Linked DNA regions of Homo sapiens: region 2 is linked to region 1. Evidence: fine-mapped expression QTL. Tissue or cell type: whole blood. Region 1 holds a variant in brackets; the other region holds the start of a gene. All regions are shown on one strand. Distances are between the middles of the regions.

Region 1 (8,528 bases):
GTTACACTTTATTTAATTTTTCAAACATTATTATGAATATAGTCTATTTGAAAACTTCATACTGTATTAAAAAAATGTTAAGCCTATTTTTCTTGCCATCCTCCCACCCACTCCCTCAGTGGGTTATAGATGTAACCACTATTTAACAATTTGATGTGCACTCTTCCAGGCCTTTTATTTTAAAAAAGAGCTTTTTAAGTATATTATTATATTGATCAGGATTCAATTTCAGAGAACAGAATTAACTCTAGCTGGATTAAGGAGGAAGGAATTTATTACACAGTATTTAATAGCTTACAAAATGGTTGGGAGAGATGAAGAGACAGACTGTAGTTTGTGTTCTCAGCAAAGTTTCCCAATATCAGTTCAACAAGGGAGTTGCTGCCTCTTCTGAGATCAGAAATTTGCCAGCCTTGGGTCACACAGCCATTGCTATGATTAAGAAAACAGTCACGATAGAAGAGACACTGCTATTGCTACGGTGCCAAGACCATACCTGTCTTCTATGGTCCAAGGAATGGATGCTCAGGGCCCTGCCCCTAGCAACACAAAGCTAGATCCTGGACACTAGGTAGGTACTATTGCTGGTAAAGAAAAACCAAAATCTTTCTCAACCAGGTTTCCAGAAGCAACATCAGCTGCAGTAGTACAGCCTCCGCTTCACTTTTACCTTCCATGTGTTGTATAAGGGCTTCTGAATGGCCAGACTTAAATTACACCAAGCACCTCACTGCAGGGGAGTCACGGTCCCTTTTACATTTCCAGGCTCTGCAGTTCAGAAAGGCACTTGAGATGGTAATGAGTGGATGTTGACACCACCTCTACAGACAACAAAGGGGTTAGTCCTAGAATTTTATTGCTGGAAAAGACTTAGGGATTTAGTCTAACTTGTTAATTTGAGAGAAAGGAAATTGAGACCCAGAGAGCTGAAATGACTTGATAGTGATGGAATAGAAATAGAACTCCAGCCATTTACATGGAGTTGAATGTAGCCTAACGAGATAGCTTCCTCTCCAGGACTCGTGATATTCTCCAGCCCCATTGGGCTTATTGCCTATAAACTTACCAGAGAGATTGTTTTCATCTAAAGCACACCTCTTTGCTCCCCAACTTTTGTTTATGCAGTTCATTTTGGGGACCAAAATGCAAAACCTTATACCTTATATTTATCTCTTTTAAATTATGTCTTTGTTAATGTAATAAGACAATTTTTGATCCCAGTACAGTCCCTCCCAGCTTGTAACACATGCATATTAGGTAAGCATATCTTTATGCTCTAATCAAAATTACTTTTTTAAAAAATTGAATAAAGCAGATGAAAGAAATTTGGGTGGAGCTCTATCTCACTAGAAATCTATTTCTTGATCGCTACCTATCTGTGTTGTACTCTTTTGGTATGATTGTTTGACCAATTACCAGCCTAGTTGACTGTTCTCTCTCTATTTTTTTTGTATTTTTTTTTTTTTTTTGAGACAAAGTCTTAATCTGTCACTCAGGCTGGAGTGCAGTGGCACGATCTTGGCTCACTGCAACCTCTGCCTCCTGGGTTCAAGCAATCCTCCTGCCTCAGCCTCCAGAGTAGCTGGGATTACATGTGCTTGCCACCATGCCTGACTAATTTTTGTATTTTTAGTAGAGACAGGGTTTCGCCATATTGGCCAGGCTGAGTAGTTGACTGTTCTCATATTGAGCTCATAATTATCTCCCTTGTCCACAAGGAGGTCTGTCCAGAAGCCTAGGGAAGTACCCAGTATATGAACATTTCCCTAATCTGCCTGTCTACTCATCCTGTCAAAAAAAAAAAAAAAGAAAACCAAAAAAACAGACTATCAGGGCAAGACCATTCTTGGTAAGCTCATGCTGGCACCTAGTGGACACTGCTTCTTTTTAGGAGCATTTACAAGCCCTTCCTGCAGTCATCTGCCCTGAGAATATCATTTTGGATTGGAGGCAGCCTTAAGGTTTGATAGCCTGAAGGTATAGAAGCAGGTGGGACTTGCCCATGGAGTACCCCTGTAGCCCCAGTAAGGGGATTTGAGATCCTCTGTGAGAGGGCTGTGAACATGAAGCCTGTGAGGGACAAGGACACGAGACTGCAGGAGCCCTGGCCTATGACAGCACTGCGACTCTGTGGCCACCATAAGGGCGGATGTGGCCAGGGTGACTGAACACATGTTCCAAGACAGCTTGCAAAGTCTCAAAACTAATTCTCCTTTTTGCCTAGACATGCCAGGCACATTGAATAAAACAACTTCAAGTGTCTTAGCCTTCATGTCTCTGCCACCTTTGCCTCATCGCTCTTTCTACCACCCTTTCCAGGCCCTTATCCCTCATTTCTTTCACCCGTGGGAAAGACCCAGCTTAAAGTCACCTATTCTAAGAATTTTTCCCAGCTTCCTCCAGCTAAAATGAATTATTTCTTTGTCCCAGCCGCCAAAGTATTTTGTTTGTACTGTCAATTGAACGTATGGTTTGAGACATCTGGGAGAAAGAAGGGGATATATTTGGTGGTAAGGAGATATGTTTGTTGGCATGACATCTTAAAGGATTTGGAAATAATCTGTGGACTAACCTAAAGTTTACAGGACTTCTGATTTTTCTAGTTCAAAAATCCTTTAGGGAATATTAGAGAAGGCATTATTGGCCTTAACTTTTTTTGGATAGGGGCACAGAAGTTCAGAGAGCTTAACTGGCTGGGCCAAAGTTATTTAACTACTACGTGACAGAACCAAAATTTAAATCTAGGGTTTGTGCATGCAAGTCCAGAGCTCTTTCCACTATAACACACTGGCCTAAGTGCAGGCAGCAAAAGCTCTCCAAGGTTGTGACGGGACCCATGGCCATTCTCTGCATTTTGTCTGTCCGGGGAAGAATGGAGGGAGAGGGTTTGTGCAAAGTGTCACTCAGCAAACCCTGATGTGGAATGGGGAACATCTGTGGTCTCCCTTGCCCCACTCATCTGACTCTCTGTTTACCAATTTCTTCTTGAATCAAAAAAGGAACTGAGAGCATGGCCCAAATGTCACGAACCGGTTCCTGCCCCAGCATTTCTCAGAAGGACAGATAAACAATGTGATGGATGTGCTAATGTTGGGTTGGGTGGGGAGGGTCGGAAGTTGGGCAGGAAGAGTTATTTGCTCAGTTGGCCAAGTTATTCCTACGCAGTGAGAGGGCTTCAACTACCAATCCATTATCGCTGGTCCTAGGGTTCTGTAGAGCTGAAGTTATTGCCTCAGAATCTTGATAATAGGTGCTACAGAAGGAGGACACATCTTTACAAAGACGAGCCTCTAAATGAATATGCAGACTTAGGGATGTGGTTGTGGCAGGGTAGATGATTAAGATCTACTTTTCTCTAAGTTCTCATGGCCATTGAATTCCTGGACTGGTTGTGTAGTGATTTATCTCTGCCCAACAGCTTTTCTCACCAGTCACCCATAGCCATTTCTCCAGGCCACTTCTTCACCATAGCTCCAGCCTCTCCTGTTCTGCATCCTCTCTGAACTGCCTCTAGTGCAGTGGTTTAACTTAGAATTTCTTTATCGCACTAATGAGATATGTTGTCCATTCTTACTACGGCTCTGCAATGTGCCTATACTTATTCCTATTTTACATATTAAGGAGCTGAGACTTGGGAAATCAAATAACTTTTTAAGAGTACACGATTACCTATTAGTAAGTAGCAGGCCCAGATGCAGCTTGGGATTCACTTCTAGGTTTTCTCTGGCCTCAGACTATGTGCCTCAAAGACAGTGCTAAATTTGAACTCATCACGTCCTAGGTACCTACCTTCTATAGAATCATGTTATTATTCTTCCATTTATATTTTTGTTCGACATTGTTATTTGGGAGCCTCAAAGTATATTTTCACATCTGTCCTAGATCTTAAGTCGCATTAAGAACATAATTGTAAAAATTGACAAACAGTTACTGATAACTCAC[G/A]GATGCAGGAGGGCACTGGTGGCAATGCTGGAAATATTAATAGAAAGAGGAACTTGTATTTGGACCATGATGAGGAGGTGATGAGACAAAAGAAGGGAAATTTCTCTGTGACTGCTCAGCAGAGATCTGCACTTATAGTAAATGTTCTATAGATGATAATTATAAATCACAACTGTGACTATGCTCTAGAAGCCCACAAGTTTTGAGAAACAACTAGAGTAAGAAGACTGGGGTCATGTGTATCCGCATGCGGTCAGCCTTGTTACATAAAATGGGTGCCTTCTCAAAAAAGCAAGCCATCGCACACTTGACGATCTCTTAGCATTTATAAGAAATTTTTGCTTACTCAATATTCATCAAGATTGCAGTTTTAATGGTGATAAAAACAAATTGTGGCTGTGTGTGTGTGTGTGTGTGTGTGTGTGTGTGTGTGTTTGTGTGTATCTACTAATCCTAAAACAGAGAGCCTCTTCTCCTTTCCTTGACGGGAAAGCAACCCAGCTCCCTCTCTAAAGATAGCATTTCCTTCCTTGGGCCTAACATCCTGATTATGCTCTTACAGGGCTTCCATATTCATTTTTCCTTTTTTCAAGACAAGTGCAGAGAAAACGTATTTTACCAAAAGGCAAATAATGCCCCCTAGTGGCTAAAATCCTAAATACAGAAGCTGTTAAATTCACTCCCAGTTAGATATATACTGAGCCAGCCTCTGCGGGCATTCAGTAACAATCGAGATGTGTCTCCTGCCCCTATCCTTGAAGGAACTTATGCAGTAATTTTAGGGAATTGAGAAGGGAAATCTCACTTCTAAGGATACCATAATAAAATGTCAGTAAATGAACCCTTACGTTTCACCTCTTTTCCAGAATATAAATATCTATTATTCTTCATGGTGAAGAATTTTAATAATACTAGTTGAAATAGATAAATAAAAACTATATAAGAAGAAGTACATAATGCATTTCATGTAAGTCTCTCTCATAATGCCCACTCCCATAAATAACTAGTTAATGGTTTTATATACCATCTATCTTTCAACATTTTTCATATATGTGCATACATATATGTATTTTTAAAGTAAATGTGCTCAGACATTTCTACTTGTAAACCAGCTTTTTAAAACTTTATGATATAACCATACAATCCAGCAATCCCACTGCTAGGTATATACCCCAAAGAAAGGAAATCAGTATGTCAAAGAGATATCTGCACTTCCGTGTTTGCTGCAGCACTATTCACAGTAGCCAAGATATGGAAGCAACCTATGTGTCCATCGACAGATGAATGGATAAAGAAAATGTGGTACTCATGTGATAGAGTACTACTCAGCCATAGAAAGAATTAGATTCAGTCACTAGCAACAACATAGATGGAACTGTGGATCATTATGTGAGTGAAATAAGCCAGGTAGAGAAAGACAAACATCGCACGTTCTTACTTATTTATGGGATCTAAAAATCAAAACAATTGAACTTATGGAGATAGAGAGTAGAAGGATGGTTACCAGAGGCTGGGAAGGGTAGCTGGCGGTTAGGGAGGAGGTGAGGATGATTAATTGTTACCAAAAGAAAAAGAAATAGAATAAGGCCTAGTATTTGATAGCACAACAGGATGACTATACTCAATAATAATATAATTTTACATTTAAAAATAAGTAAAAGGGTGTAATTGGATTGTAGCACAAAGGATAAATGCTTGAGGGGATGGATACCCCATTTTCTGTAATGTGATTATTACACATTGCACGCCTATATCAAAACATCTCATGTACCCCATAAATATATACACCTAGTATGTACCCACAAAATAAAAAAATATTATTTTAAAAAACTTTCTGATATAGCTACCACATCCCTCTTTGTTATATTTCTTAGTAGTTGCCTAGTATTTCACTGAATTGATAAAACAACCCATTTAACCAATCTATTACTTGTAGTCATTTAGATGTCTCCAGTTATTCAATATTATAGACAGTGGATGCTGTATCGGCAGTCACCAAGATCATCCTCAGGCTCCCTCAGGCTCCCTCAGGCTCACTGATTTACTAGGAGGATTCACAGAACTCAGAAAAGCTGATATACAAAGTTATGGTTTATTAGAGTGAAAGGATACAGATTAAAATTCAGCGAAGGGAAAAGGCCCAGGGGTGAAGTTCAAGAGAAACCAGGTGCAAGCTTCCAGGTATGGCCTCCCAGAAGAATTTGTACAGAGATGTGCTTAATTTTCCCAGCAATGATGCATGGCAACATGTGTGAAGTATTGCCGAGCAGGAAGCTCACCCAAGCCTTGGGTTTTTATTGCGGGCCAGTTGCATGGGCATGCGTCACCTGCATGACTGACCTTACCTACTCAATTTCCAGCCTCCCGGAGGTCAAACTGATACAGCATGGCCCAGGGCCTCAGGCATACGGAAACAGGCTTTACCATAGTCACGCTGTTAGCATATCTAGTCAAACTGATATAGTGTGGCATGAGGAGTTGGTCAAGGGCCAGTCCTCCCGAAGACAGACCATTCCTTGAACTTGCAGGGCTTGAGCAATCAGAACCTGCAGAGTTAACCCTTTACTACACATACGTCTTTTATATTTATGATCTGAACACTGACTAGGCCTTCAGCAGCCCGTTCCCACAGGTCTGCTTCCATGTATGCTCTCCACAGAGAGTATTCACATATTCGCCACTCTCCTCAGGCAATTTTTCCTCAAACTGGCTATTCTTCTCACAGCTCTATCCTCACAGCATATAAACTAGGTTTTTATTTCACCCAGAAAATAGAAACCATCAGAAGAGAATGCCTTTAACTTCTTGCCGCCAAAACTCCTGAGCCTCCCTTCATCCCCACCCATTATTTTCTTCTTTCCTCTGGTTACCATGGAAAAGGTTAATCATCCACTGGGCTTTGGATCCCATTCCACCCCCTAATTAATTCAAGGACTCCTTTTCTCCTGTATCTTTAACTGTTTTCCCTCTTCTGATATGTCTACAACTTTTCCTATAGAAAAAAGAAAAAGAAAAGAAACACCTCCCTCTTGCACACTTCCCTTTGGGTATGGTCTCTCCTTTCTTTCATCTTGAAAGTTGAGTCCACACCTACCACCTCCATTTTCCTGCTTTCCACTTCCTCCTTGCCTCCTGCAATCAGGTTCCATTTCCCCAACCCCACTCCCAACAATCTCACCGAAACTACTCTCGCTATGGATACTAAGACCTTGTGATTGTTAAACCTGATGAAAGCTTTTAGTCCTCACTTTATTTGGCCTCTCTAGTATGACTCATCCTTGGTTTCTAAGATACCAAATTTTCTTATTATCTGTTCCACTATGACTCAGTTTCTGTTGTGGGTTCCTTTTGCTTATGTGTCCCTTAAATCTTATTTTTCCTCAGCAATTGCTCAATTCTTTTTGTATTTTATTCTCTCATCCTAGGCAATCTCATCAATCCTAGTTCATTCATAAAATGATGACTGGGGCTGGGCATGGTGGCTCACACCTGTATCCCAGCACTTTGGGAGGCCGAGGCAGGTGGATCACCTGAGGTCAGGAGTTCAAGACCAGCCTGGCCAACATAGTGAAACCCTGTCTCTACTAAAAATACAAAAAAAAAAAAAAAAAAAAAAAATTAGCCAGGCAGGGTTGTGCGCACCTGCAATCCCAGCTACTTGGGAGGCTGAGAATATCTTGAACTGAGGAAGAAGAATAGCTGAGGCAGGAAAATAGCTTGAACCCAGGAGGTGGAGGTTGCAGTGTGCTGAGATCGCACCACTGCACTCCAGCCTGGGCGACAGAGCAAGACTCCATCTCAAAAAGAAAAAAAAAAAATGATGATGATGATGATGATTGGATCTCTTTTTTATCTCTTTTCTGAGGGTCATATCCCAGTCTCCAGCCAGCCCAGCCAATGATGACATTTACTTTTCTCCAAACTGTCCCTCCTCCTTTGTTCCCCATCTTGGTGAATGAAATCATCATCCACTCAATCACTCAAACTAGAAATAAAGTTATCTCTTATTCCTCCCTCTTTCCTCTCTCATATCCATTTGGTCTCTAAGCCTCCTCCCTTCTGCCTTTTTAATCGCTCTTAAACACATTCCCTTCCTCTGTGTTTCCTCTACCAGCACCCTTCATTCCTTGACTCAATTATTGCCTTAATTCTTAACCAGACTCTGCCTCTAGAATTGTCCTCCCAGCCTATTCCACACACTGTAGTCAGGGTTGTTTTCTAAAATACAAATCAAGTGGCATTATTCTGCTGCTTAAACTTCTTTAGCATTTGCACGATCTTTAGGAAAAATTTAAAACTTCTTAGCAAGGCATACGTTGCCCTTATGATCTGGTCATGCCTATCTTTCCAGTGTCCTGAAAGCAACTGTGAACACCATCTGCATCATCCTTCTTTCTCCCTTTTCCAACAACACATTTACACTTCGATGGGGCTTTCTGGCCTTTGTGCCTTTGAAGATGTTGGTCCTTCCGGTTAGAACTTCTTTCCTCATCTCCCTCCTTTTTCCCTGACAAATTCCCACTCATCCTTCAAGATGCAGATCAAGCATCACCTCCTCTGGGAGGCCATCCCTAATTACCCTCCTT
Region 2 (5,000 bases), 34 kb before region 1:
CATCTCCCCCTGAGTATTCTGAGGTGATCCTGATGGAGGAACTTACTCAATAAACCGAATCTCAGTCTCCATGAACAAACAGCAGACCCAATGTTGCTTTTTCCTCGCAGTGAATCACATCTATTCTAAATAGTTCATTGATTAAGCTTCAAGCGAGTAAATTTTCCCAGCAGCTTAATGGAAATTTCAGTGTAAAGAACTTGATAGCTTCACCCCAAATCTTCAGAAGGCCCCTTGCCTTCCATATTGACAGTGGGGTCCTGCAAGGATTGCTGCAGATGGTATAGGGGAGGGTCTCTATCCAGGTAAGATGCTATGGTAAGGACAGTAAAGGAGAAAGGGTGACATAAGAAGAGAAAGATATCATGATTTGTTTAGAAGCCCCTTAGCCTCTGCCTAACCCTGAGGGTCTATGTTTTATGTAGTTTTAGGAGTGGCGATGCATCTAAACACATTTTATTTGTTTAATTCGTACACCTGTAATCCAGCACTTTGGGAGGCCGAGGTGGGCAGATCACGAGGTCAGAAGATCAAGACCATCCTGGCTAACAGGGTGAAACCCCATCTCTACTAAAAATTCAAAAAATTAGCCGGGCGTGATGGCACGCTCCTGTAGTCTCAGCTACTCGGGAGGCTGAGGCAGGAGAATGGCTTGAACCCTGGAGGCAGAGGTTGCAGTGAGCCGAGATCGCGCTACTGCACTCAAGCCTGGGCAACAGAGACTCCATCTCAAAAAAAAAAAAAAATTATTAAGGCTAGCTAGGCTTTTCTTCCTCTTCTGAGGCTTCACATCACATCAGCTGCAAGGCTTACTGCCTCACTGCCTTCCCCAGCACCCATATTCAACCACCCCTGGACTCCCTGGGGCCACCTGCACAGAAGCGTATGCCTCTCGATAATGGAAATTTTATTCTAAATGCTTATTTTAGACTCAGAAAGATCCACTCTCTTATGCCCGTGTGGTTGATATGTCTGCTCTGACCTGTGGTTTTTGCACAGTTGAAGGGTCATACTGTCCCTCTCTCTGCCTTCAAGGAGGACCAAACTACCTTCCCCCATTTCTCTCTCTCTCTTTTTTTTTTTTTTTGTGAGATGGAGTCTCGCTCTGTCACCCACACTAGAGTGCAGTGGTGCAATCTTGGCTCACTGCAACTTCTGCCTCCTGGGTTCAAATGATACTCATGCCTCAGCCTCTGAAGTAACTGGGACTACAGCCATGCACCACCATGCCCATCTAATTTTTTTTTTTTTTTTTCAGTAGAGATGGGGTTTCACCATACTGGCCAGGCTGGTCTTGAACTCCTGACCTCCAGTCCAGTGATCCGCCCACCCTGGCCTCCCAAAGTGCTGGGATTACAGAGGCATGAGCCACAGTGCCTGGCCTACCTTACCCCATTTCTGATGGCTCATTTCATCTCCAAATAACCTACTGGAGGCCTGGTGGGTGTTATGATGACAGAAAGGGGAGGAATGTGGCCACTGTGAAAAGACACATGGGCCCTACCATTAAGTAGGCCTCAAACAAATAGCAAACATTCAGAGGCAGGGACAATGGTTCCCAGGAGGCCATCTGGAACGGAAGGGAGAGGCTGTAGCCTCTATATTGCTCCTATTCCTGAGTCTCCTCAGGTTTCTCAAGATATCGGATGCCTCCTATCTCTAATTTCCTCAGGATCAGTGGCCTGAGCTTTGGCTATGAGCCTAAGCCCTGAGCTGACTGCTGGATCCTCTGGGAATAGATTTTCTTTTTCCTCTACTCTTTCCCAGTGGATTCTCCCTGCCTTGTACTCATATTTCCACTGAGACTGAGCAGACTTAGTCATGCTCCAGAAATAGAGAGCTGACACGAGTCTAGAGAAATTTGCATGCAAATTTGTGTGGGCTTTGGATAGTCAGAGCCTACTAGAGACTAATCTGATATCTAACTTGGTGCCGTGACTAATCTTCCTTCTCTGTCTCGCTACCTTCTAGTCACTAGAAACATATAAGTGTTGGAATGGGCAGGACATTTGAATTCTCATCATTGATTCTCCAGTGATTTTCTATTGGCCTTCAAACAACATCCCACCTTCTGTCCCCAGTTGCATCACCAGTGAAAAGGGTGGTTGTTGCACTGACCTTTCCCAGAGTGTACATGAAGGCCAGCTGGCTATCAGACAATGACATGCTTTGACAGGCCCCTGAGCTCTGTGAGTAAATTCTTGAACAGCTGAGAGTGCTACCATTTTGTCATAGCCCTAAGGGTGCAGATGATGCTGAAAGCGTGTTGGCCAAATCTGAATGATGAAAGCCAATTACAAACTAGAAAATGAAAACAGACCCCAGATGCAAGGAGATGAGACAGTTAAATTTACTTCCTCTTTTCTAATCTGAGAGGTTTCATGTTGAAGAAAATCAGTGTTGGGGTTGCAGGAGACCTAAACACAGTCACCATGAAGCTGGGCTGTGTCCTCATGGCCTGGGCCCTCTACCTTTCCCTTGGTGTGCTCTGGGTGGCCCAGATGCTACTGGGTAAGTAAAATATTTGAATATTGGTGTGGGAATGGAGCTTTGCTTACCTTGGGAGAAAGGACCAGAAGGAAAGAAACATGGACTAATTCTGGCCCTCCAAAGAAGCAGTATTCAGGTGGAATAAGAAGGGTAGGTATAAGAAAGTTTGGTGTACAGGATTGAATTACTTTCTGAATATAAAAATCTTCCATCCTGAAAGTCCCCTCTGATCATGATATCCTCTCTAGCTCTAATCTCAACTCTTTTCTTTCACTTGTGAGACAAGTTTTCTTAAAAGAATAGTTTGCACTTGCTATCTCCACTTCCTCACTTCTCACACGCTCCTCAATGCTTGCAGCCTGGCTTCCACTGGAATTGGTTTTGTCTAGGGCACAACGATCTCTATATTGACTGGGTTATGGCATGCTTTTCAGTTCATATCCTGCTGGACTTCTCTGCTGCACTGGGCTCTGTTGATCACTTACTCCTTCTTGCATTCTCTACTACCCTGGCTTCCATGGCACCATTTTCTCCTTGTACTACATGGACTTCTCTTGATCCCTTAATAGCTTCTCTTCTCTTCCCCTTAAACACTAGTGTTCTCTATAGTTATAGCCTTGCCTCTGTACTCCTCTTTCTTTACACAATCTCCTTCATGAGCTTATTTGTCTGTTTAATTTTTGCCACTATAACTCTGTATTTAAGAGTCCCAAATCATATCCCCAACCCTAACCATGCTTTTGAGCTTCACATTCAAATATCAAGCTTCATACCAGACATATCTACCTACATATCTCACAAGTGTCTCTGCACCATGTGACTAGAGTTGAACTTATCTGTCCTTTTGGCCCCTGCCTCATCTAATTCATTTTCCACTTTCTGATCTCAGCTAATGACACCAGCATCTACCCTTACAAGGCCATAAACCTCAGAAACAACCCAGACTCTTCCTTCTTTTTCATTCTCTAAATCTGATCAATCATTAGGTTTGGCCAATTTTACCTTCTAAATTGTTCATAGAAGCAGTCCCTTGCCTGGATCATCACTAATGTCTTAGGACAAGCCCTCATCCTCTATGACTTGGGCTATTCCAGTAAATTCCTAACTAATCTCCTCGTCCAAACCTTGTGTTCTTGAAATGAATTCTGTACCCTGCAGACAGAGTAATTTCTAAAACTCAAGTTTACCAGCCCAAATTCTTTATCATGGCACAAAAGGCCAAGCAGCCTCTACTTTTACCCTCTCAGCCTTGTAACTTATGCTCTAATAAATCTCAATCAGTTCATATTTACATACTCACACACCAGACTCTTGCCTGTCTCTAAGGCTTTGCTTATACCACTATCTCTACCTGAAATGAGTTCTTTCCATGGCACCCTACTCTCCTTCTCCTTGCAAATGTGTAGGTACCCCTAAAGACTCAGCTTAAATGGTATCTTTTCCAGGTAGCTTTTCTTGAATGCTTCTTTCTGCTCCAATGGCTGCTTGCGATACATTTTTCTTATTATAATATTTTCCTACTTATGCTGAAATAATATTTTCATCTACCTGTGTCTTCCACTAAATTGAGAGCTATTTGTGGGTAGTGACAATGTTTTTTTGTTTTTGTCTTGTGATAAGAACTGCAGACTTGGAATCAGATACTCCTGTTTCAAGCCCCTCTTCTATTTACCAGCTCTATGTCACTTTAGAAAATCACTTTTTCTATTTCTGGTTCAGTTTTCTCATTTGTAGAATGAAAATAATAATACCTACCACCTAAGGTTTATTGAGTGAGTTCCCAGTAACCCAACAAGATTTTATTTTATTTTATTTTATGTTTTGAGACAGGGTCTCGCTCTGCCACCCAGGCTGGAGTGCAGTGGTGCAATCACTGCTCACTGCAACCTTGACCTCTTGGGCTTAAGCAATCGTCCTATCTCAGCCTCCCAAGTAGCTGGGACCACAGGCAAGTGCCACCAGGCCTGGCCAATTTTTTAAAAAATTATTTGTTGAGACAGGGTCTCTCTATGTTCCCCAGGCTGGTCTCAAACTCCTGGGCTCAAGGGATCCTCCCACCTCAACCTCCCAAAGTGCTGTGATTATAAGCATGAGCCACCACGCCTGGATAAGATTTTATTTTTAAAAAGAAAAAATGGAGAGGAGGCAGAGCACAGATGAGTGACAGTGGAGGAACTGAAAAGAGGTAGCATTACAGTGAAGGGAGCGGAGAAAGGATGGAAAGAAAACACCTGGTACTGATGTGATGAGAATTAGGAAGTAGGGAGGGGTCTTGGTAAGGGACATGACAAAATCAAAGAAGAACGCTGGGCTATTGGGAGTGGAAGAGAATAAAGGCAAGTGGGGCACGAAATGACAGTCAGATGGAGTGAAGAAGTATGCACATGTGAATGGCCATGAGGCTGGAGGAGGGGGAGAATAGTTAGGGAGATAAAGAGCAGTCCCAGAGAAGGGAGAAATGTCACTTCCCTTGCCTAGGTCTACCATGAAGGTAAGAGATAGGTTGAGGA

What was found. PIP is the estimated chance that this variant, and not a neighbour inherited with it, causes the effect.
Region 2: it holds the start of FCRLA, and the variant in region 1 is fine-mapped to the expression of FCRLA in whole blood (INTERVAL, PIP 0.97).

What each region holds. Positions count from the first base shown.
Region 1 is chr1:161,737,063-161,745,590 of GRCh38, forward strand. No RefSeq gene overlaps it. Among named protein-coding and RNA genes, the nearest start is that of DUSP12, 8.5 kb to the right of the region's middle. RefSeq lists enhancers at 1,936-2,145, 6,982-7,141. The variant G/A (reference allele first, on the strand shown) is at 3,943.
Region 2 is chr1:161,704,833-161,709,832 of GRCh38, forward strand. FCRLA (Fc receptor like A) reads left to right here and starts at 2,397. Exons shown (of 5, transcript NM_032738.4): 1 at 2,397-2,511. The coding sequence starts at 2,433. RefSeq lists enhancers at 933-1,152, 2,693-2,872.